Linked DNA regions of Homo sapiens: region 2 is linked to region 1. Evidence: fine-mapped expression QTL. Tissue or cell type: whole blood. Region 1 holds a variant in brackets; the other region holds the start of a gene. All regions are shown on one strand. Distances are between the middles of the regions.

The links. PIP is the estimated chance that this variant, and not a neighbour inherited with it, causes the effect.
Region 2: CDKN2D starts here. The variant in region 1 is fine-mapped to the expression of CDKN2D in whole blood (INTERVAL, PIP above 0.99).

Annotation. Positions count from the first base shown.
Region 1 is chr19:10,943,063-10,945,743 of GRCh38, forward strand. No RefSeq gene overlaps it. Among named protein-coding and RNA genes, the nearest start is that of TIMM29, 16 kb to the left of the region's middle. The variant C/T (reference allele first, on the strand shown) is at 1,537.
Region 2 is chr19:10,567,727-10,570,407 of GRCh38, forward strand. CDKN2D (cyclin dependent kinase inhibitor 2D) reads right to left here and starts at 1,253. Exons shown (of 2, transcript NM_001800.4): 1 at 787-1,253. The coding sequence starts at 927. RefSeq lists an enhancer at 420-589 and a silencer at 870-1,519.

The sequences.
Region 1 (2,681 bases):
TACAAAAGCCACTATAGGCTGGACGTGGTGGCTCACACTGTAATCCCAGCACATTGGGAGGCTGAGATGGGAGGATTGCTTGAGACGAGGAGTTTGAGACCAGGAGTTTAAGACCAGCCTGGTCAACATAGTGACACCTCCATCTCTTTAAAATTGTTGTTTAATTATATAAAAGCCACTGTAGAGTTTGAATGCTTTCAAAATATCAAGAGGATGACCACAATGAAGTAAACTGTCACGGTGGGGCACAGTGCCTCATGCCTGTAATCCCAGCACTTTGGGAGGCTAATGTGGATGGATCCCTTGAGCTATGAGTTTGAGACTGACCTGGGCAACATAGGGAGACCCCATCTCTACTAAAAATATGAAAAATTTAGTAAAAACCCTGTCTCTACTAAAAATACAAAAATTAGCCAGATGTGCTGGCATGTGCCTGTAGTCCCAGATACTGGGGAGGCTGAGGTGAGAGAATCACTTGAACCTGGGAGGCAGAGGTTGCAATGAGCTGAGATCATGCCACTGAACTCCAGCCTGGGCAACAGAGCAAGACTCCCTCTCAATAAATAAATAAATAAATAAACAAATAAATAAATAAATACTAAAATAAAATATAGCCAGGGCACAGTGGCTCGCACCTGTAATCCCAGCACTTTGGGAGGCCGAGGTGGGCAGATCATGAGGTCAGGCGTTCGAGACCAGCCTGGCCAACATGGTGAAACCCCATCTCTACTAAAGATACAAAAAGTTAGGCATGGTGGTGGGTGTCTGTAATCCCAGTTACTCCGGAGGCTGAGGCAGGAGAATCGCTTGAACCTGGGAGGCAGAGGTTGCCGTGAACTGAGATCGCGCCACTGCACTCCAGCCTGGGTGACAGACCAAGACTCCCTCTAAAAAAAAAAAAATTACCTGAGTGAGGTAGTGTGCTCCTGTAGTCCCAGCTACTTGGGAGGCTGAGGTGGAGGATCACCTGAGCCCCGCAGGTTGACTCCATAGTGAGCCATGATCATCTCACTGCACTCCAGCCTAGTTGAACAGTGAGACTCTGTCTCAAAAAAAAAATAAAAATAAAAAAAAAGAGGGAGAGGCTGGGTGTGGTGGTTCATGCCTGTAATCCCAGCACTTTGGGAGGCCGAGGCAGGTGGATCACGAGGTCTGGAGATCAAGACCATCCTGGCTAACACGGTGAAACCCTGTCTCTACTAAAAATACAAAAAATTAGCTGGGCGTGGTGGCACGTGCCTGTAGTCCCAGCTACTCGGGAGGCTGAGGCAGGAGAATCACTTGAACCTGGGAGGTGGAGGTTGCAGTGAGCTGAGATCGCGCCCTTGCACTCCAGCCTGGGTGACAGAGCGAGGCCCCATCTCGAAAAAAAAAAGAGGGAGAGATAACATGTCACACCCATGAGAATAGCTAGTAAAACAAAACAAGGCTGGGTGCTGTGGCTCATGCCTGTAATCCCAGCACTTTCAGAGGCCAAGGCAAGAGGACCACTTGAGGCCAGGATTTTGACACCTTCCTGGGCCAGAGAGCGAGATC[C/T]TATCTCTAAACAAAAAAAAATATTTTTTTTTTTGAAATGGGGTCTCACTCTGTCGCCCATGCTGGAGTGCAGTGGTGCGATCTCAGCTCACTGTAACCTCTGCCTCCTGGATTCAAGCGATTCTTGTGCCTCAGCCTCGCAAGTAGCTGGGATTACAGATGTGTGCCACCATACCTGGCTAGTGTTTTGGGTTTTTTTTTTTTTTTTGCTTTTTTTTGAGACACAGTCTCATTCTGTCGCCCAGGCTGGAGAGCAGTGGCGTGATCTCAGCTCACTGCAACCTCTGCCCCCTGGATTCAAGCGATTCTTGTGTCTCAGTCTCCAAAGTAGCTGGGATTACAGACGTGTGCCAACATGGCCGGCTAGTGTTTTGTTTGTTTTGTTTTGTTTCGTTTTGAGACAGAGTCTCATTCTGTCACCCAGGCTGGAGTGCAATGGCATGGTATCAGCTCACTGCAACCTCCACCTCCTGGGTTCAAGCAATTCTCCTGCCTCAGCCTCCTGAATAGCTGGGATTACAGGCACACACCACCACACCTGGCTAATTTTTGTATTTTTAGACAGACGGGGTTTCACCATGTAGACCAGGCTGGTCTCGAACTCCTGACCTCAGGTGATCCGCCTGCCTTGTCCTCCCAAAGTGCTGGGATTATGGGCATAAGCCACTGTGCCAGACCAAAAAAAATTTTTTTTAATTAGCTAGGTGTGGTGGCGCATGCCTGTGGTCCCAGCTATTCAGGAGGCTGAGGCGGGAGAACCATTTGAGCCCAAGAAGTTGAGGCTGTGGTGAGCTTTTTTTTTCATTTTTGGAGACCTTCCAAAAAAGAAAAAAAAAAAGCTCCTTTAATGCAGATGTTTGCTATCAGCTAATGGCCATTTGCCTCTGTCTTTTTCAATTTGCGCCCTGCTGCTTTCCACAAAGGTTGCACCATTTTACATTCTTACCAATCATGCTGCACAGCACTCCGAGTTCTCTATGTCTTCACCCATACTTGTTATTTTCTGTTGTGTTTTGTTTGGGTGTGAAGTGGTATCTCATTGTGGTCTTGATTTGCATTTCCCTAATGATAAGCGATGTTAAGAAAATATTTCTTATTTAAAAATGCTTTCTTTTTTTTTGTTTGAGACAGTCTCGCTCTGTCGC
Region 2 (2,681 bases), 380 kb before region 1:
CAATCACCAGGAAACAGAAAATCCCCTCCAGGAAATGGGCCCCCAGAGATGGAGAACTACCCCCAAAGAATTGATAGTCCTCATAAGGGAAAAAAGATGTCAAAGGAAAGCGAACCCCTTCTCCAGGAAATAGCCTCCTCCTACATAATGGTGATGTCACCTCAGAGTACCTGAGAGCTCCTTTCAAGAAGCGGGATTCCAAAAGTAATAATAAAAGAGAAACGAGACTTCCCTGTAAAATGTCTCCCAGGGAATATAGGGATGTCTTGCAATCTGACATTGTTCCTCCATTGGGGCCCCCATACTATATCAAGGATCCGCATAACCTTTAGGAATGAAGACCCCACCCCCAAGTAACCAGATTTGTCTCAGAGAGCCCCCTACAAAATGAGGAACCCCTAGAGACAGGACCTCTCCTTCCAGAGATCGGATCTCCCCATAGAAGCCCCAAGAAACGTGAGCCGTCCCCATGGAAACGGCATCCAAAGGAGCTGAACCCGCACCCACGGAATAAGAACCTCCCCAGGGAAAGTGAATCCCCGGCACTCAGAGAACCAGGAATCCTCCCAGAGAAGATGCTAAAAAGCTCTCCCCTCCCCCCACAACCTAGCCTCACCCACCACCCACCTTCGAAGGGGGACTGTGGGGGAACAATGAAAGCCTAGAGAAGAAGGACCGGTTCCCAGTGGGTCACCACCAGGGCCAGGAGACCAGAGAGGAGCTCTGGGGTCTCGATCCTCATCCCGCTTAGCCGCCCCGCCCCAACCTGGACCGGCCCGGCCTCACCTGCAGCGCCGTCTTGCCGAAGCGGTTGAGGGCGTCGGGATGCACCAGCTCCCGGTGCAGAAGGCGGCGCACCTCCTGCACGTCGCCCCGGGCCGCCGCCCCACTCAGCCGGTCGCCGGCGCGAACCTCCTCCAGCAGCATGTCGACACTGGCGGCCTGCAAAGCCCCCCGCCCCGCCCCAGCCCGGCGCTGTCAGCGCGGAGCAGCCGGCGGGCGCTGGCCCGAACAGCCCTCCCGGGGCGCGGCCGCGGTGCACCCGGCTGCGCTGCTCTCCCGTCCCGGCTCCCCAGCCCGAGACCCCGGCCCTCCCGGCGGGCTCCTCCCCCTGTCAGCCGGAGGACGGCGAGGGGCTGGGAGCCGGGCCCAACCCTCGGCCGCCCGCGGGGCCCTGCCCGGCGCCCGCCCCTTGGGGGCCGGGTCTCCCCCTAACTCACCCTCCCTCCTCCTCGCCGGGCGGGGTCTGCTCTGAGCCTGCGCCGCCGCCGCCGCTGAGGCAGCCGCCAGGGGGCGGAGCCAACGTGCTCCCGGCCACGCCCCGAACGCAACTGATTTGTTTTCTTACAAACTCGCTACTGTGTAGCGGCACCGCGTTGCCCGGCGCGCGACCTTACGGCGTTCCGCCCACAGGGCCTGCATAACCAGTGGCTGCGCGTCGCCGGGGAAACTTCGGGCTCGGCGTGAAACGCGTCGCTCCTGATTGGTCAGAGTGTGGCAACCGGTGGACCGCCGGCAATGGCGGGGTTTTCGGTTTTCAAATGAACCCGGCAGGCGGGAAAGAAGGCTGGTTTAACTGACCCAGGGAGAAAGGTCAGGGGCAGGGTCGCGCGGGCTGCTCTGGGACCTCGGCGCCTCCTGAGGGAAGGGAGGCAGGGCTGGAGCCACCCAATCCGAGGTTCCACTACTAATAGACATTCATTGGCCCTTACTACGAGCTGGGCGCTTTATTTCATTCATTTATTCATTCACTGTGTGCAGGGAGCGTCCTGGGAGCTGGACGCGCACATTCAAACAACCAAATAATATTAGATAGTGTCAAGCACCGTGAAGAAAGGGAAACGGAGAGACGGAGTGGATGAGGAAGGGATCACCCTGCCGGGCTCAGACTGAGCCAGCAGGAAAGGAGCCTGCAGCTGCCACGTGGGAAGGCCTGAGAGGACATAGTCGCAGCCAGACAGGGACTCAGAGGTCTTCGTTCAAATATTTACTTAGCACCTCCTAGAGGGGCCCGAGTGGAGAGCACGCCAGTCGGCCCCTGCTGCAGGGACACCTATGGTCTGGGGCCAGAGACAATAGTTAATTTTTATTTATATATGTATTTATTTTTGAGTCAGGGTCTCACTCCTGTCACCCGGGCCGGCGTGCAGTGGCGCGATCACAGCTCACTGCAGCCTCGACTTCCCGGGCTCAAGTGATCCTCCTGCCTCAGCCTCCCGAGTAGCTGGGACTACAGGGCGCACCACCACGCCCGGCTAATTTGTGTTTTTAGTAGATATGAGGTTTCACTATGTTGCCCAGGCTGGTGTTTTTTGTTTGTTATTTGTGTTTGGCTTTTAAATACAGATTTTTTTTTTTATGTTGGGGTTCTTGCTTTGTTGCCCAGGCTGGTCCCGAATTCCTGGGCTCAACGGATCCTTCTGCCTTGGCCTCCAAAAGTGCTGGGATTACAGGCGTGAGCTCCTGCTCTCCGCCAATAGTTAAATCTTTTTAGAGTGGTAGAGGACTGACCAGATGAGCCATTGAAACGGAAAGGCAAAAAGCCGGGCGCGGTGGCTCACACCTGTAATCCCAGCACTCTGGGAGGCTGAGGTGGGCGGATCACGAGGTCAGGAGTTCAAGACCAGCCTGACCAACATGGTGAAACCCCGTCTCTACCAAAAATATAAAAAATTAGCCGG